Homo sapiens: one gene and its partner. The protein of the gene in region 2 interacts with the protein of the main gene of each other region in a biochemical or structural test. Each region holds a gene or a part of one and is shown on either strand. Other genes may lie near its edges.

What was found.
Region 1: of the proteins of CCNY (region 2) and CDK14, one has a biochemical effect on the other in vitro, tested with the Homo sapiens proteins (one study listed by BioGRID).

What each region holds. Positions count from the first base shown.
Region 1 is NC_000007.14:90,723,054-90,733,319, reverse strand, and holds part of CDK14 (cyclin-dependent kinase 14), read right to left. Parts: intron 6,754-10,266; coding exon 6,508-6,753; intron 1-6,507. UniProt on the Homo sapiens protein: Serine/threonine-protein kinase involved in the control of the eukaryotic cell cycle, whose activity is controlled by an associated cyclin.
Region 2 is NC_000010.11:35,330,989-35,341,517, reverse strand, and holds the start of CCNY (cyclin-Y), read right to left. Parts: upstream 5,010-10,529; 5' UTR 4,465-5,009; coding exon 4,311-4,464; intron 1-4,310. UniProt on the Homo sapiens protein: Positive regulatory subunit of the cyclin-dependent kinases CDK14/PFTK1 and CDK16.

The DNA of each region.
Region 1 (10,266 bases), on a different chromosome or scaffold from region 2:
AAATCAACAGAATATACATTCCTCTCAGCACCACATCACACATACACTAAAATTGACCACATAACTGGAAGTAAAACACTCCTCAGCAAATGCAAAAGAATGGAAATCATAATAGTCTCTCAGACCACAGTGCAATCAAATTAGAACTCAGGATTAAGAAACTCACTCAAAACCACATAAGTACATGGAAACGGAACAACCTGCTCCCGAATGACTACTGGGTAAATAACGAAATTAAGGCAGAAATAAAGATGTTCTTTGAAACCAACGAGAACAAAGACACAACATACCAGAATCTCCAGGACACATTTAAAGCAGTGTGTAGAGGGAAATTTATAGCACTAAATGCCCACAAGAGAAAGCAGGAAAGATCTAAAATTGACACCCTAACATCAAAATTAAAAGAACTAGAGAAGGAAGAGCAAATACATTCAAAAGCTAGCAGAAGACAAGAAATAACTAAGATGAGAGCAGAACTGAAGGATATAGAGACAGGAAAAACTCTTCAAAACATCACTGAATACAGGAGCTGGTTTTTTGAAAGATCAACAAAATAGATAGACCTCTAGCCAGATTAATAAAGAAGAAAAGAGAGAAGAATCAAATAGACACAGTAAAAAATGATTAGGGGGATATCAACACCAATCCCACAGAAATACAAACTACTATCAGAAAATACTATAAATACCTCTATGCAAATAAACTAAAAAATCTAGAAGAAATGGATAAATTCCTGGACACATACACCCTCCTAAAACTAAACCAGGAAGAAGTAGAATCCCTGAATAGACCAGTAACAAGTTCTGAAATTGAGGCAGTAATTAATAGCCTACCAACCAAAAAAAGTCCAGGACCAGAAGGATTCACAGCCGAATTCTACCAGAGGTACAAAGGGGAGCTGGTACCATTCCTTCTGAAACGATTCCAAACAACAGAAAAAGAGGGAATCCTCCCTAACTCATTTTATGATGCCAGCATCATCCTGATAGCAAAGCCTGGCAGAGACACAACAAAAAAAGAAAATTTCAAGCCAATATCCCTGATGAACATGGATGAGAAAATTCTCAATAAAATACTGGCAAACCAAATCCAGCAGCCCATCAAAAAGCTTATCCACCATGATCAAGTCGGCTTCATCCCTGGAATGCAAGGTTGGTTGAACATAAGCCAATCAATAAATGTAATCCATCACATAAACGGAACCAAGGACAAAAACCACATGATTATCTCAAAAGATGCAGAAAGGGCCTTTGACAAAATTCAACAGCCCCTCATGCTAAAAACTCTCAAGAAACTAGGTATTGATGGGATGTTTCTCAAAATAATAAGAGCTATTTATGATAAACCCACAACCAGTATCATACTGAATAAGCAAAAACTGGAAGCATTCCCTTTGAAAACCGGCACAAGACAAGGATGCCCTCTCTCACCCCTCCTATTCAACATAGTATTGGAAGTTCTGGCCAGGGCAATCAGGCAAGAGAAAGAAATAAAGTGTATTCAATTAGGAAAACAGGAAGTCAAATTGCCTCTGTTTGCAGAGACATGATTGTATATTTAGAAAACCCCATCATCTCAGCCCAAAATCTCCTTAAGCTGATAAGCAACTTCAACAAAGTCTCAGGATAAAAAATCAATGTGCAAAAATCACAAGCATTCCTATACACCAATAACAGACAAACAGACAGCCAAATCATGAGTGAACTCCCATTCACAATTGCTACAAAGAGAATAAAATACCTAGGAATCCAACTTACAAGGGATATGAAGGACCTCTTCAAGAAGAACTACAAACCACTGCTGAAAGAAATAAGAGGACAAAAACAAATGGAAAAACATTCCATGGTCATGGATATGAAGAATCAATATCATGAAAATGGCCATACTGCCTAAAGTAATTTATAGATTCAATGCTATCCCCATCAAGCTATCATTGACTTTCTTCACAGAACTGGAAAAAACTACTTTAAATTTCATATGGAGCCTGCATAGCCAAGACAATCCTAAACAAAAAGAACAAAGCTGGAGGCATCACACTACCTGACTTCAAACTATACTACAAGGCTACAGTAACAAAAACAGCATGGTACTGGTACAAAAACAGATATATAGACCAATGAACAGAACAGAGACCTGAGAAATAACACCACACATCTACAACCATCTGATCTCTGACAAACCTGACAAAAACAAAGCAATAGGAAAAGGGTTCCCTATTTAATAAATAGTGTTGGGAAAACTGGCTAGCCATATGTAAAAAGCCAAAACTGGATCCCTTGCTTACACCTTATACAAAATTAACTCAAGATGGGTTATAGACTTAAATGTAAGACCTAAAACCATAAAAACCCTAGAAGAAAACGTTGGCAATACCATTCAGGACACAGGCATGGGCAAAGACTTCATGACTAAAACACCAAAAGCAATGGCAACAAAAGCCAAAATTGACAAATGGGATCTAATTAAACGAAAGAGCTCCTGCACAGCAAAAGAAACTATCATCAGAGTGAACAGGCAAACTCCAGAATGGGAGAAAATTTTTATAATCTATCCATCTGACAAAGGGCTAATATCCAGAATCTACAAAGAACTTAAACAAATTTACAAGAGAAAAAAGAAAACAACATCAAAAAGTAGGCAAAGAATATGAACAGACAATTCTCAAAAGAAGACATTTATGCAGCCAACAAACATGAAAAAAAGCTCATCATCACTGGTCAGTAGAGAAATGCAAATCAAAACCACAATGAGATACCATCTCACGCCAGTTAGAATGATGATCATTGAAACATCAGGAAACAACAGATGCTGGAAAGGCTGTGAAGAAATAGGAATGCTTTTACACTATTGGTGGGAGTGTAAATTAGTTCAATCATCGTGGAAGACAGTGTGGCAATTCCTCAAGGATCTAGAACTAGAAACACCATTTGACCCAGCAATCCCATTACTGGGTATATACCCAAAGGATTGTAAATCATTCTGCTATAAAGACACATGCACACGTATGTTTACTGCAGCATAGTTCACAATAGCAAAGACTTGAAACCAACCCAAATGCCCATCAAAGATAGACTGAATTAAGAAAATGTGGCACATATACACCATGGAATACTATGCAGCCATAAAAAAGGATGAGTTCATGTCCTCTGCGCGGACATGGATGAAGCTGGAAACCATCATTCTCAGCAAACTAAGAGAAGAACAGAAAACCAAACACCACATGTTCTCACTCATAAGTGGGAGTTAAACAATGAGAACACATGGACACAGGGAGGGGAACATCATACACCAGGGCTAGGGGAGGGATAGCATTAGGAGAAATATCTAATGTAAATGACAGGTTGACGAGTGCAGCAATCCACCATGGCAAGTGTATACCTATGTAACAAACCTGCATGTTCTGCACATGTACCCCAGAACTTAAAGTATAATTTTAAAAAAAGAAAAAATATATTTTTTAAAAGGGCAGCAAACAGAAAGGACTCAGAAAAAAACAGGATATTATAGCATCCTGCTGAAAGAGAAAACGAAGCCATTTCCAGTTTGATAAGGTAAGAGAAAAGACATTTTTCCAGGGCACATTGAATTGAAGCAAAAATTCCTAAAATAAAAAGAAAGCAAAGCAGTTCCCACACAAAGTAATATAAATGACCTAATATATATTAAAAAAAGTCATCCCAGGGTGAACCAGGAAAGGGTAAGCCCAAGATGATCTAAAGAAACTAAAAAATACAATAGAGAAACTGTGAAAACTTCCAGTGAAACTTGATGGCTTGAAAACATGTATTTATCTCTCCCCCTTACCAATTCATACTAAAACAATACTAAAATTAAAACCCATAAGGGCAATCAAAATGAGTAAAGAGAACACTAGAGACGAGATAGAAATAAAAATGTAAAGACAGGACACAAATGGTTGAGAAGTCACATTGCCTAGGATGAGTGGGGAAAAAAAAAAAAAAAAAAAAAAAAAAACCTTGATACCTACATGATCCAAGGCATAAGCCAGTAAGAAATAAGTCAATTCATACTTCAGAATCCCAAAAATACTCACAAACTGGAAGCTGAAGTTCAAGTTGGGGCTACAAATGATATGATTAGTTGGAGTGAATTTAAGGTGGAGGTCTTTGCCCCAGTCTCCCTCGGCCAGCCCCCTATCCCTTCCTAGTCCCGCCAGAGATTTATTCTCTGAAGAGGTTGAATCAGAGAATTCAACTGGGGCTTGGATACCAGGCAGAGTGGATATCAGATTGAAGAGTCATACCGAATGAAAAAAAAAAAAATCATGAGAAAGTTGGCATAGAGAACTGAAGGGTCCTCAGTCCCTTCTTGATCATCTCAGAATAGTGACAGCTAGGTTTATATGTCCTAAAAAAAATAAATTGGGTAAGTCCATTTTGTGAGAAACACCCAGTAACAAAAACAAGATCAAGAGACAGCGACATTTGAGAGTACTTAAATAAAACGACTAGGTCTTCACCAAGAGTCCCTATGCTGAAGCCAACCAACTGACAAGCCACCCAGGCACAGAGCTTCCAATCAACTTCTGAGTACATTACTCATAACATAAACTGACAGCCAACAGTTTCTCTCCAAGAGGCATGACATAGACCCACCAAAAATCTCAACAGGTAAGGCAGAGACCAAAACAAATAAACAGAAACAAGAAACTCAAAGGAAATCCAGAAATAATTCAGAGAATATGTAAAAGGAAAAAAAATTCCCCAAGCTACATTTTGTATCCTCAGAAACATATGAAGTGATATGTTATTCATTGAAATAGAACAGGATACTTTTTAAAAGAGCATTCAAAGAATAAGAAAGAGTTCATGGAAATAAATATTAGTATAATTAAAAATCCAATTGAAGGGTTAAAAATTAAAAGTTAAAAAAACCCAGAAGGTAGGAAAAAAAAGATTTAAAATAATAGGGAAAAGAAAAGGTAACTAGAAGATCAATCCAATAATGCCAACATCCAACTAATAAAAATGTTATCGTAAAAGAGAAGATTACAAAAAATTAAATAAACATATAAGAAAATTTTTGAAACTGAAAGAAATTAACTCAAAAATTGAAAACACCCATTGATACCAAGAAAAAGGATGACACCAGGGATGAAAAGAAAGTCCTAGAAAGTTCCACAAACAAAAAAGCAGATAAAGGATGAACTGGGAAACCAGAATAGTCTAGGGATTTCAATACAATCTAGGCACCTAGAAAACAATAAAACAAGGTATTCAAAAGTCTAAGAAAAAATTATTTTCTAAACTAAAATCACATACTTGGCCAGATTATTAATCAAGTAATCAACGACAGATAAAATCATAGTCATATGACAAACCCCCCATCACCCTTTCTCAAGAAGCTACTGCGAGGATGTACTTTAAAACAATGAAATAAACCAAGAACAAGAAAGACATGTAACCCAGAGAATGGGTATTTAACATTAAAAAAGGAGGAAAAAATTCTCAGAAAAGGACGCCTTATGACTATAGGATTAGAGGTTAACCAATCTATATTAAATTAGGACTATGAAGAACTGCCAGGGCAATCTCAGTGGGGGAGAAAAACTGATAGATTATCTGATTTGTTTTGGAGGCATTTTACAGTTTTGTCATATAGTTGCAGGCCTCAAATTGTGTTTAAAATTATCTTAATTTGAATGAAGGAAAAGTAGACAATGACAACTAAGAAAATGAAGAAGTTGTGCAAGGAAGGAAATTTATTCATAGCATACTTGTGGTTTCCCTGACCAAAATTTACATTATCATACAATTGTAAATAATGTATATTAATTTAAGCCAAAAAGTAGGAAAAAATGTATTTGAGAATAGAAATATAACAGAGAATATTCTCTCTTGGTGTGTTCCTTTCTAACTTGTAAATCACTAGTTATATCTAAAGTCTGTTTCCCTCTAACACTTCTTTCTGGACATTCTCTTCTTTCCTTTGGTCCTACTGAATCTACCCTACACAGATTTCTACTCCAGCATTTTCCATTCAGTACAGGGCTTTGTCCTGGAAAAGAACTTCAACTTGTCACTTTACAGAGTCACATGAGAAAGACTGGTGGAGTACCCCCCCAAAAAAAACTGGATTAACGCAAGTGAACAAATTTTGATATTTATTCTGCAATGAAATTCCTTGTGAATTTGCTAATTTCAAAACTATCCTTACTGCCTACACAGTAAAGTTCAATAACCTCTCCAAGGGTTTGAAATACAAAAGACTTTTAATTATAAATTCCTCTAACTAGAAACAATTAAGGGGGAAAAATGATTTTTCCAAAAATAAGTTGAATCATTTCATTCATTTGCTTGCTTAGTGCTTATAAATAAGGAGTCCATATATAGTTTGCTCTCTCTCTTCCAAAACATTCAACCACCCTGGGAGAGAATGCATAATAAGGCACTGATAAAGTTTCCTGCTGTCTTCCAGCACCGCATGCTATCATAAGAAGGCTATTCCTTCTGTTTACCCAGTGATAAACAAAAAGACTGCACTTACCGAGCTGGGGCTGGAGTGCCGCCTAACTTTAGGTGACTCTTTGCCAGTGGAGGAGGTCTTAAAGTTAATGCAAGCATTGTTCTCAGAATGCACCCTCTTTACTTGATTAGCTGGTTTCTCAAATGGGTCAAAAGTGCTCTGTGTCCTCTGAACTCTGACTTTTTTATCCTCAGGAATTGTGTCCAGGGGTTTGATCACTGAGTCCATTCCCTGGCAGTTCCGTGTAGACATCTTTGTGACACATATCTGAGAAAAGAAGAAATTAAATTCAGAACTCTTCACTGCAACTTTAATATCACTAAACATGCCAATATATAACTCTAGAAAGCATGCCAATTTCAGTTTCAGGAAATACCCAAAAAGCCCACATTCTAAAAGCTGCATCAGCATAAATTACAGTACAAAAAAATCCTCACAATCATTGTGTTTACACTTAGATCTCACACTAGAGCTTACACTAAAAAATCTACCTCTAAAATGAGAAACTTAAGGCCCAGGCTGCTAGTAGTACCCTAACATGATTCTTGAACTCTGTCACACGTTTTACCATCTGACTGGAAGTGGTTTATTTCTGAATCATTAAGAGGTTGGGTAACTAGCCTTAATTTAAAAAACAAAAAATAGGCAAATCAGATGGACATTAACTGATGGGTCATCGTGTAAGCAGCTAACCTAGGCTAGAGAAGGAAAGGGCATTATGTTGTTTAAAAGTTTTATGCATGAATATGTATGCTTAAAATCTGTCCCCATCTTGATTTCATCTCCAAATTGGAATGAATGGAGCTAATGGTTAGAGATACTGAAGAACTGAGGACAATGGTGGGGGTTTCCTTTATTTCAAAGCTAATGGATAAAAAGAAATAACATTGTAAAAGAAAAACACCAAAAAGCATTCATTTCAAAATTTGGTTTACATTATTCCACTAGACCTCCACCTCCTTCCCTTCTTCTTCCTTCTTCACCCATTCTCTTCTCACCCAGCCTTCCCCACCCTCTCATTTTATTTCAGTCTCTGTGATTTTTGCTCCTTGCTTTTTACTTTAGTTCTAAGCCTGTCATTCTCCCGATACTCTGGAGACTTTGTTGTCTTTATTCAATAATTTGATGGCCTCTGGCTTGTCTGTAAAGCTAACTAATTTAATTGTTCTCTCTAAAGAAAATATAACTCTAAATAAAATTGTTTTTAGAATGCTTTTCTTCTTATAAAAAGTTCCCACATCCCTATATGCTATCAAAAGCAGAAAAACCGAAGATATTTATGAAAAGCCCACACTGTTAAGGTAAAAATACGAAGTTTTTGAATACACACTTTGGGTCCGTGGTTGGTTGAGTATGTGCATACAGAACCCACAGATACACAGAGCTAATATGTATAGAATGACTCCATGTGGGGTATAAATGCGGCTATGTATATGGATAGATATAGACAGATACAGATATAAATACAGACACAGATGCATAGATATAGATATTTGTGAGTGTATGAGCATGGTGAAAAGTATACAGGAAAACACACCACCAAACTATTAACATCAGATATCTCCAGACATGTGGAATTGAACGGGCAAGATTAGCAATTTTTGGTACACTCTTGTGTGAATTTTATAATAAATATTCCAACATATGTAATGTTTTAAAAACCACTAAAGTAGAAAAGCATGTATAATTAAAATAAGCCATTTCAAGTTTTTGAAACAAAAAGTTTTTAATCATTAAACATCAACCCTATGAGTATGTCTCAACTACTAAGCACAGGCTGAATTCTAACTAAGTCAAATGAGAAAAATATTATCATACTTTTTAGCATGTGAGAAAACAGCTGAAGATATTTTTAAAAGACTCAAGGCAGAGTCCTCTAGTCATGATCAAAAAGTAAAAATGAATTACAAGTATGTTGGAGCATGCAATATTTTTAAGGGTTTTTGTGCTCTTCTTAAGGACATGAAGGCAGTAAATAAGAAACCACCCACATCACTAAAGCAATTAAATTATAAATACATGGGCCTGAGAAGTCAATGAACTGCAAACACAGAAAATTTGAAAGAAAAAAAAATGTAAGGGCACGTTGAAATCAAATTACTTAAAATAGAAACTAAAAGATAAGGATGACAGAAAATAGTTGATGACTAAATTAATAGAGAAAGGCAATTAGAAAGCATCTTGGACTAAATAAAAATGAAAACACAAAATACGAAAATGGTGAGATTCAGCTAAAGTAGTACTTTAGCTGTAGGAAAATTTGTAACACTAAATGACTAGAGAAAAGAAGAAAAGTCTCAAAGCAATAACCTCAGCTTCCACCTTAAAATACTAAAAAAAAAATAAATAAATAAAGCAAATAAAAACCAAGATAAGAAGAGTGAAATAATAAATAAGAAAGTGGATATAAATAAAATAGAAAACAGAAAACAATAAAGAAAAATCAATAAAACCAAAAGCTGGTTTTCAGAGAAGTTTTTTTTAAATGATGAACATCTAGCCAGACAGATAAGGGGAAAAAAAAGTAGAAAATATACATCGCCAATATTACTATCAGGAATGGGAGCAGTGATATCACTACAGATGTTCTACAAATACTACAAACAACATTGTGCCAATAAATTCCACAACTTAGATGAAACCAATTATTTGAAAGACAAAAACTACCAAAGCTCACTCAGTTAAAAAAAAAAATAGATAACATGAATAGGCCTGTGTCTATGACAGGAATTGAATTTGTGGTCAAAAACATTACCACAAAGATAATGCCAGGGCCAGGTGGCACCACTGGTGAAGTTAAAACAAACATTAAAGGAAGAAATGACTTCAATTGTACAGAAACCCTTTCAAAATACTGATGAAGAGGATATACTTCCCAATTCATTTTATAAGGCCAGTGTCATTCCAATACCAAAGCCACACAAGAACATTGTAAGGAAACTACAGATCAATCTCTCTCATGAACACAGATGCAAAAAATTACTGGTACATCTTCAACAAATTGAATGCAACAATATATAAAGAAGATAGTAAACCATGACAATGTCACACTAATCCCACGAATGCAAGGTTGGCTTAACATTCACAAATCTGTAATTCACCATTTTAAAATACAGTGGTAGGCAGTCTCTAACATGGCTCCCAATAACACCCACTTCTAAGTATTCACACTCTTATGTAATCCCCAGCTCTTGAGTGTGGGCTGCATTTGTTGACTTGTATCCCATAAATATAATATGGCAAAAATCATAGGATACCGCTTCTGAGAAAACATTGTAAGAACAATGTTTCTTCTATTTTGGTGCTCTCTCTGCCTTGAGTATCCCCTCTTAGATCACCAGACCTGGGGAAAGCCGGCTGCCATGCCATGAGGCAGCCCTGTGGAGAGGCACCTGTGCAGAAAGACTAGGGCCTGCAAACAACCTTGTGAGTCAAGTTTTCAGGGACAACCACAGTTCCAGCTTCCTGCTTGACTGGACTCTCATAAGAGACCCTGAGCCAGCTAAGGAGCATCTGCAAGAGACCCATAGGAACTAAGATTTTTTAAAAATGTATGTTGTTTTAAGATGTTAAGTTATGGGATAATTTGTTATGAAGCAATTAATACACAGTTTTTTAAAAATCATATGATCATCTCAATAGACTCAGAAAAAAGCATTTGATAAATTCAGCATCCATTCACAATAAAACCTCTCAACCAACTAAAAACAGAGTAAAACTTCCTCAAACTGATAGAGAGCATCTACCAAAAAATTACATGTAACATCATACTTAATGCTG
Region 2 (10,529 bases):
AATAAATGTTCTATTGGAACTTACATGCTAGTAGCTAGTAGCTAGTATTTATGTTTATACTTATATAGTATATCATAAAGTGTTAAGGAATAAAGAAACAGGAGTGCAGGGAATATGCATTGGGATTGCCAGTGGGCGGCAGAAAGGATGTTTAAAGGTGATTGGGAAGGCCTCCCTGAAAAGGTCAGGCTTGAACCAAGGCTGCAGGTGATAAAGGGACTCAGCCAAGAGAGCACATGGAGGACACTTCAGGCAGAGGGAGAGAACGGGGTGGAAGTTTGTGTCTGGTATGTTCCAGGAAGGGCAAGGAAGGAGGCCAATGTGGCTGGAATGAGCAAGCGACTGAGTGAGCTGATGGCAGGCAGATCCCAAGGGGCCCCAGCGACCACTGTAAGGCTTTTACTTGTGCAATAACGAGTCACTGCCGTTTTTGAGTGAAGGAATAAGTTCAAGTTTTTTAAAGGATCTTAGCCATGGCTGTTGTGTCGAGAACAGACTGGAGCAGGCAAGGGTGGAAGCAGGGAGACCAGGTGGGCTGGGGGAGATGGCAGCTGCTTAAATCTCCAGAAGAGCAGCAGCAGAGGTCTTGAGAGTGGTCAAAGTCTGATATATTCTGAGGGCAGAGAGCCACATTTTCCTACCAGATATGATACAGGACGAGGGAGAAAGTGAGTTGTCAAGGATGACAGGTAAACTATAAAAATGAAAAGAGTGGGCCAGGAGCAGTGGCTCACCCCTGTAATCCCAGCACTTTGGGAGACTGAGGCGGGCAGATCACTTGAGGTCAGGAGTTCGAGACCAGTATAACAAATATGGAGAAACCCCATCTCTACTAAAAATACAAAATTAGCCAGGCGTGGTGGCGCATGCCTGTAATCCCAGCTACTTGGGACGCTGAGGCAGGAGAACTGCTTGAACCCGGGAGGTGGAGGTTGCAGTGAACCAAGATTATGCCACTGCACTCCAGCCTGGGTGACAGAGCAAAACTCCATCTCAAAAAAAAAAAAAAAAAAGAATGAAGTTGCCATCAACCATTTTAAGGTAAAACCCTACAAGGACACTATGGTACAGCTGTTACAAGTATCCTGATTTATTTGGTCTCCTCACATTTTAAATTCTCTTTAGTCCCTCCCTCCCTTTCTCCTCCCACAGAAATAATCTAATCCTGGAAGTCTGGACTGAATAACTGCTGCAGACAGAAGAAGTTTATCCTTGAGAAAGTATGGATATGACTGCAATGACAAGACACCCTATCCCAGAAGGCAACCCCAGACTAGCTAACGTTTGATGGCTAAGTCAAGCAACAATGGAAAGTTTCCATTTGCCATGTATTGGCTGTGTGACTTTGGACAAGTCATTTCTCCTCTCAGTGACTCATTTCTTTGTCTTAAAGTAAGGGTAATATTACCCATAGGGTTACTGTGAGTTCTAAGTAAATGAATGGAATCCAAGTACTTAGAGCGGCAGCTGGTGACAGCTGCTACAGAGTAAGTAATACATAGGCTGCAATTATTACTATCATTTTTTTATTTTCCTAAAGAATTGTTCTGAAGATTACTATTGTTGTTATGTGTTGCTGTTTTTTCTCAATCTCTGAATGATTTTATAAGAAATAATACCTGGAAAGCATGAGTCCAATATCAATTTCAAAAACATGAATAACCTAACACTAAGATAAACTGAGCAAAAAGACACATTAAGTTGCCATTAAGCACCATAGACACCTAAGTTCCCAGACACTAAAATTACTGAAATTCTACAGGACAAGTATTACCCCTTCATGTGCCTGGTGACAAAGGGAAGAAAGCATGGATACATATGTCATATCTCTGTGATTTAAAGACACTAACCTATCATAGAAGACCCATGAACTTCAAACCTTTCTAAACCAGCTGGGTGGGATGTTTTTCAGGACATAAAAAATATGGTATTTGAGTACTTCAGCTTTTGATATATACTAGAGTCAATGATTCTTAAAATGTAGTTTTAAAATGTTTACTAATAACCTAACAATCAATATAACTCAGTTCAAATACATACAGATATAGATGAGCAAATACAGACATATAGATGTATATAGTGTGTATATATATACACTCTATTTAATTAAAACCTGTTCTCTTCTCTCAGCCTCTAATAATGAATTTCTACCAAAAATGTCCCTGAACGGCAGGTAACACTTCCAAGATTTGCCCAGCCAGCAATTCTCAGGCCTACCTGCATCTCAGAATCACCTTGGAGAGATTTAAACATATTAATGGCAATGTCCAGTACTAGATTTCTGGTTTAACTGAAACCAATGTTGAGAACTGCTGGCTGGGTCAATGCTAGAAGTATTATTTATTGAATTTGAGAGACAGAAGGTGAATTAATATTTCGGGGTTTAAACTAGCATAATCATATGAACTGGGATCTGGGATGAGAGGGCACTCCACAGCCTAGATTGGAAACCTGCCCTATACTCTCTCAAACTATCCTGAATCTGCAAAAGAGTCTTCCAAACATTCTCTCAAAAATTCCTGATGACTGAAACTTAAGATTTCTTTGAAATGAAAGAACACACAATATCATTTCACTGTACTCTGGCAAAATTGTACTGAGCCTTAGTGCCAAATACCTGGTTACACTTATTTTTTCCACCTTATTTCCTTACAATAGTCTATAATAACTGTATGCAGCCTGGCTCTAAGAAATGTAAATCTTCTTTTTTTTCTTTTTTGATCCATCATTCAAAACAAAGCCTCCGCTAGATACTGCACAACATAAAAAGGAAATTTACTGCACATCATAAAGAAGACATTATTTCCAAATGTTTTCGCCTGTCAACATAGTATAGGACTGGGTAATGGCTTTCTGTAATAAACTCATTCATTTATTCCTCCCTTTAAAGTACAATACTTACTGTTTATTATATGCTAGACTTTTCTTTCAGGTGCTAGAGGCTGTGAAAGTGATCAAGACCGATCTGGCCTTCATCCTTCTAGATGCCTTTAAATGCATAAATTTAAGAAGAAAGTATGGCTGTAGTTCAAAGACATCTAAGCGTATGTTTAAAATAATGGAAATCTAAAATAACAACACTAGACACGTCATATGGAACCATAATTTACTAAGCGCGTACTAGAAACCAGACGTTGTGTTACTCCCTTTATACATGGCACTCATTTAATAAAGATGCTCTCCTAAAAAGATTAAACTACCATTTAGAAGAAATTACACGAAGACAAACGAGAAAAATCTTTCCTTTAGCAAAGTTTAAATGTGGCCTTTCCACAGTGGAGAGAATCTTCCATCCTAAAGTGGACAGGAACGAATTATGAAGTTGTGTTCATTCATTCACACAAAAATTTCTTCATATTAGTTCAACCAGATTAACTATGAGAAGATGTTTGGGTTAAAAAAATCACCTTGTCATAAAAAGATACTTCCAATTTCAAATCTTTTCAGTTGAAAATTCTATAAACTATATTTTAAGCATGATGCATAAATATCCCTCTGTCGTTATCACTGAGCAACAGTGCTAATAAATATGTTGCCAAACCAATAAAATAAATAAAACATTACTGCGTGCAGTAATTAGTCTTAGCTTTTTTTCTTTTTGCAAACTCCAGACCAACCAAAAGTCACCTGAATAAATCAGAAATTCATAGGACTGCAATTCGGGCCCATGCAAAAACTGAGACTTAACCCAAAGGTGTCTGACAATCTTTTAAAGAGCATTCTCGGGAGAAGCTATTTGACTAATCCTGGAACCGCCACTCAAAAAAATCATTTTTTAAAAAAAACGGTAGAATGGGAACGGGGGAAGTGGAGTCCATTTGTAAGGTTCCGGGGAACTGACTCAACATGGTTCTCCAACTCGAGGTTGGAGACACCGGGATTCCAAAATGGGAATCCACTCACTTCGCTTTTATAGGACAAACGCGTGCACAACTTGGCTTCGGGCTGCATTCAGGTAGTGCCGGGAACCCCGAGCTCCCGGGCCGCCCCCACCCAGCTCTGGCCGCTCCATTAAGGACGAGGGCCGGCTCCTGTCACCTCGCGACCCACGCGCACACACCCGCCCTAGGCCCGCCGTGCTCGATGCCGCGGGCCTGCAAAGTTTCCGCGGCCGCTCACTTGGGGGTAACCAGCGAGGGGTACGCCCAGAGGCTGCGGGGCCCCGGGCGCCTAGGCTGCGCGGGCGAAGCCCCGGTTATGCACGGGTCGCCGAGACCGGCTGGGCAAGCAAGAGCAGCCGGGCCGCCCCGACGTTGGCTGTGCGACTGTTGCCGCGGGGGCGGGTAGGGGGCTCGGCGGGCCGCACTCACCGTCTATGTTCTCCCGGTCGCTGATGTGCTGCAGGTTGCAGCCCGTGTCCTCGCGGCTCAGGTCCGTGTCTGGCCGGTAGGACTCCAGCCGGGAGTGGGCATTCCTCCGGAGCTTGGGACTGGACGACACGCAGCACGAGGTAGTGTTCCCCATCTTCGGCGGCCCCCCGACTCCTGCTGCTATCCTGTTCTCCCAGTCCCCGGGAGCGGGGCGCGGGTGGACGCGGGGCGCGGGCGGCGGGGGCGTGTGGGGAGGCCCGCCCGCTCGCCGCCACGGGAGGGGGCGGAACGGCGGCCGGCCGCCGGGTCAGCAGCGGCGGCGGCGGCGGGGCCTCGCCATGGGCGGCGGCGGCGGCGGCGGCGACGAGCGGGCGACGGCCCCGGCTCCCCCTCGGCCGGCCTATCCGCGGCGGAGGAGCGCTCGGGTCCGCGCGACTGCGGCCGCCGCGCCTACCTCACCCCGCCGCGGCCATGGCGGGCGGCGCCGCGCAGGCCGCCTCCCCCCCGCGCTTCCCCAGTTGGTGTCCGCTTCCCCGGCGGCTGCGGCGACGGCGGCCGCCTCGGCAAGAGGTTCCGGTTCAAGCCGGGGGCACGCGTGTCCGCGCCGGACGGCGGGACTAGCCGACGAGCGGGCGGGCAGCGGGCGTGGGCGCAGCCCCCGGACTCCTCGCGGCGCGGTGCGGCGCGGCCAGGGAGGATGCTGGCGGCCCTCCCTCGCCAGCGGCGCCCGCCCTCGCCGCAGCCCCCGCCCCGCCCCGTCACCGCCCCTTCCCTCTGCCCTGGAAGCAGATCGGCGGCCGCGGGGAGGTTCGGGGCGGCGCAGCCCCGCGCGGTTGTGGGATCGCTCCCGGGGGCCGCTCCTCTCTCGGGCACTGGGGTCGCGGGAGACGTCGTCGGGAGCTCGGTTTCTGGAGGCCCTTCCCCACCCGGCCTCTGCCTCCTCCACTCCCCCGGGCTGGACGGAACGGGGCCCAGCGCGGGATGCGAGGTGCGTCCCCGGGGCCCGCAGCGGGCGGGAGCGCAGCCAGGGCCCGGTCGGGGACGCAGGCCCAGGGCGCTGAGGCTGCACCTGCCTCTCCGAAACCGGGCTGGCTCTTTTTGTCTTTTTATTTTTCTAATTTATTTTTTTAGAGGTATGATTTCGCTCTGTCGCCCAGGCTGGAGGGCAGTGGCGCAATCTCGGCTCACTGCAGCCTCGAACTCCTAGGCTGAAGCGATTCTCCCGCCTCAGCCTCCAAAGTAGCCGGTACTACAGGCGCGCGCCACCACGCCTGGCTAAGGTGTGTGTGTGTGTGTGTGTGTGTGTGTCTCCAAAGTAGCGAGGACTACGGGTGTGTGTGTGTGTGTGTGTCTCCAAAGTAGCGAGGACTACAGGCTCCCGCCACTACGCCAGGCTAAGGTAGGGTGTGTATGTGTGTTAACTTTTTGTAGAGATGGGATCTCCCTTTGTAACACGGGCGCCCGCCACTAAGCCAGGCTAAGGTGGTGAATGTGTGTGTGTGTGTGTGTTAACTTTTTGTAGAGATGGGATCTCGCTTCGTAACCCGGGCTGGTATCGAACTCCTGTCTTCAAGGAATCCTCCCGTCTGGACTCCTCCCATGGGATTACGGGCATGAGCCACGGCACCTGGCTATTTTTTTTTTCTAAGCATTTAAATAAGCTGGGGCTTGATTTGGGAGTTTTCTATTGTATTTTGAGCTTTGCCGAGGACTTGATAGTGACCTTGCTTTAAGCTGTGAAATAAATCTTGGGGTCCCAGAGCTATTTTAATATTGAATTCGCTGTGGAGTTGTTTTGAGTTCCTTGGAGGTTAACATGAGATAGAAAACTAAGTTAACACAACTCATCGACTGCCCTTGCTTTGCTTTGCTTTGCTTTTAGAATGCCATCGGGTTTTGTCATGTTGGGAACAAGTTAACTTAGGCCAGTTGACTAAGATCAAGGTATGTGAACATGCCTGGCTGGGAGAGAAGTAGAGTAAATGTTGGTTCGCATTCCCTCCCGACGCCCACAATGCCAGCCATCCCTGACTTTTCTTGCCTTTATTGGGAAGAATATAAGGTGGCAGAAACAAACTTCCCACCCTTTTTCCAAATATTTACTGAAGGAGTCTTGAGGAGAGTCTTGTGGGGTGGGGGGGTGGGGGTGGGAGCTGGGAATGTTTTTGAACTAGTTCTTGAAAAAAAAACTAGTACAATAGTACAACTGTCTTAATTTTATATATGAGGAAACTGAGGCCCAGAGATGAAATCATGCCTTGATTTATGCAGACCTCAGTACCTGTTCGTGACAAATCCAGTTACTAAAAGGTAAGAGAAGGAATAAGGGACTTGATATTTATCTAGCATCAGCAATGTGTGGACATCGTGTGAACGGCTTTATAAACATTTCATTTAATTCTCTACATCTAGCCATTTTTTAACCTGTGCTTTCCCTCCCTCTCAAAGTACTGTTTATACATTTATTAGTCCATATTTTAAACGCTCCATGCTCTCAACTGTATTAATGCTATTTGTTAGGATAAGTGGCAGATGTCCATGGAAAATAAGTGGCTGCAAAGTGGTAATGCTGACCAGATGAGAAAAGAAGTGTAAAAGGGAAGTTCTAAAGAATTAAAGCCCTGGAGAGGGTGGGTAGACAACAACAGTCCAAAATAGTGCTCTTCATTGAGGCTGTGTAGATTTTCCTGCTTCCTGGGAAAACTGGGGCATATTTACACTTGCATGTGTGTATTCAGATTGTCTGGGGCTATGGAGTTTGGGTCAGATTGCTGAACCCGTGGGAGAGAAGTTCCCTTGTTGTCTGTTGTTGTCTGTTCTGATTGCTGCTTTGTAATTTGGGCCACATATGAAAGTCAGCATCCAGTCATTGGACCATAGGTGTGTGGCATATCTACTCAGATGCATTAAGCTATTTTTATTTCATTATAAAATGTATAACATTTACATTCAAATTATGGTTTGAAGGGCTTAAGAGGAGAAAGAGACAGTGGCACTAAGGTGACAGCATGGCTGGCTGCATGCTTCCTGTCCAAGAAGGTCACTGGGCAGTGTTAACTGGGAAGAGCATCTGGAGGATGAGAGATCAGTGTAGCCACATACCCTTAACAAAGGGTGGTACAGCCTCTGGTCTGCCAGGATTTTTGTGCCCCGCCCCCCTCCCCCTCTTTCCCTATCTCCTCTTTGACATTTCCACCATATTCCCCTTAGGTATGTACCTGTTTGGACTTTAATTTAGAGTGTAACTTTTGGTCAAGAATCCTGGAGAGAAAAGACGGGTACTAAAGCCTCGCTAGTGATTTACCTGGGTGCCGACCCCCACAACTCATCCACCCTACATGCATACTTCAAACTCCTCCAGGCAGATACTCCCTGCCTGACACACAGTGACACTTTGGGAAAAATTGCAGAACAGTAACCAACTCTGAGCAGATAAATGTGATGTCAAAATGATAGTAATGAGAGATGTCGTTCGTTGAAAGCCTGCTAGCTGCCATGCACTATACTATTTCTTACATCTAAATCTGATTAAGTTATACCCCATTTTATAAATAGACACTTTGATAAGTAAACCTATCTAAGATCAAAATACTGAGAAATGTCCTAATTGGGGATTTGAACCTGGTTCTAATTCCAAAGTCCAAGCTACATCCACCCCAACCTCCTACCTCCTATCTCCAAGACTTTGTGAGTAAAAAAACAAGTGTCACTTCTCTCCTTCTCTTTTTTCTGTCCTAAAGGAAGCTGGGAGCTAACCACTTAGGACTAGTACTAATCTTTCAGAGAAAGGGATGAGGGGAGCCTTGTTATTTCTGTGGGGTTCAGCTCTCAGACCAGAGTAAGACAGGCAACAAGGTTGAGGAGTAGCCATATGCAGAAATAACCTGTGTATCTAGCCACAGGATCTCCAACACTGTGTCACTCGGGAATCAAAATACAGAGACAGTTCCTCAATAGAGTGTGGATCTAGCCCAGAATGTGGACAAGGGGAGTGGAGAAGGGGAGAGGTACACACTGAGCATTGTAACAAGGCCTGTCCTCAAGCTTGAGGAGGATTAGGAAGATGGCTTGAGTCTGGGAGTAGGAGGCTGCAGTGAGCTATGATTGTACCACTGTACCCCAGCCTAGGTGACAGAGTGAGACCCTGTCTCTTAAAAGAAAAAAAAAATTGACCTGGATCTACTCATACCCACCCTGGTCTTTGAGCAGAAAGAATCATTTGGGAATTATTTTGTCTCATCTTTCTCCATGATCACTGTTGAAGAATTTGGTCACTGTAACCAGGTAAATATAAAACTCAGGTGGGCCGGGCGCGGTGGTTCACACCTGTAATCCCAGCAGTTTGGGAGGCTGAGGTGAGTGGATCACGAGGTCAGGAGATCAAGACCATCCTGGCTAACACAGTGAAACCCTGTCTCTATTAAAAATACAAAAAATTAGCCAGGCGTGGTGGTGGGCGCCTATAGCTCCAGCTGCTCGGGAGGCTGAGGCAGGAGAATGGTGTGAACCCGGGAGGTGGAGGTTGCAGTGAGCCGAGATCGTGCCACTGCACTCCAGCCTGGGTGACAGAGCAAGACTCCGTCTCAAAAAAAACTCAGATGAACTATAGCTAAGTCAGTGCTCTTGACACTTTTTTAGCAATAGTAGCTTTGTTTCTCACAGAAAAAACAAAATTTTCTGTGGAACCACACTATTTAAAACATAAGCAATATTAGTATCAACTTGTATAATTTATAGATCTACTGATAAAAACAATCAAGAATAGTCTACCTTAATTGAATCAGGAGGAGATAACTGCAGTCTTACATCAGCCATACTCGTATCCATGAAATATGAGTCAGTCATTTGCACAACTCCCTGAGTCACCTTCTGGAACACAGAAAACACTGAGCCAAGTTAGCCCAGGACCTGAACCTTTTGTGGAAAGGAAAATCTGTAGTGTCTCCTCAGAGTATGGCTGCCCTTTCACCTGGTAGTCAGTTTCTCATGACGGTTACTCGAGCATTTATAAGGCAGTTGTGAAATAACCAAGACATTCTGTGTGTTGTGCTACTGATGCTCCTCCTGTCACCGACCTCCTCTCCAAATGAGGCCTGCCTTTTGTCCTTGGTAGTAGGCAGTCCACAGTGTAACCAGCTACAGGGGAAGTATTTACTTTGATAGCCACTTGACCTTGATCAAGTCAGGTGACTCATTTCTGGATAACATTTTTGAGAGTATACTGAGCCAGGCACCTTGAGGATACGAAAGTGGATTATAGTTTCCATTCTGGAGAAACTCACAGTCCAGTAAGTTAAACAATCACAAGAACAAGTTTCCAGCAATGAGAGTGATTACAGCCACTGAGTGGTGAAATCTGAGAAATGCAAAGCCTGCCGCCTATAAATACCTACATTTATCGCCTGGGCATATACCTAAAATTCCACCATGAGAAATATATTTATATGAAATTAGAAACTACCCAGAAATTGTGCGTCCAAATAAAAATTCCCACAAGAAATAAGGATGGCTAATAGTTTTAAGTAGTAGTGTCAAGTCTTTTGGACCAGAGTAACTGCCAGGGACGTTGTGTTGAGGATTCTGAGGTCATGTTCCAGCTTAGCCGAGAAGGGAGCCACCATGAGGGAACGAGTGAGGGAGGGTAGCACTTGTGCCCCATATTTTTTCCTAAGTAAATCATTTGTTGATGGAATGCATGATGAAACAGGGACAGCCAGGGTCTCTGGCATCTGGGAGAAAGCCCACTTGGAAACTGATTTATCTACCTCACCACTGCAAGTTCACCATTTGTCCCCAGACTAAATGGCCTTAGGAAGCCCAGGCTCTGTCTTGTCGAACTCTACCTTCTTTATCCTTCCATACTTTTCAAGAAGAGAAATGGTATATATATGTGGGATCCTTGAGAACTAGGATGTACCTGTGAGCAGGCAAAGTGTAGCATCTAGCAGGGTCAGGCATAAGTTGGAAGTGAGAGAGGTGGCTACTGTGCTCCCCAATGGCTGTTCTCCCATCTCCCATAGTTTCAAGGCCTGTTTTGTGAGGAACAGCAGTATGCCCAGCTCAAAGATGACAGCTGGCCACAGGACTAAGTCTGGCCAATAAGATGTGAGTGGACGCTTCCAGAAAAGCTCTCTAAAGAGGCTACCTCTAGCCAGGCGCAGTGGCTCACGCCTGTAATCCTAGCACTTTGGGAGGCCAAGGCAGTGGATCACCTGAGGT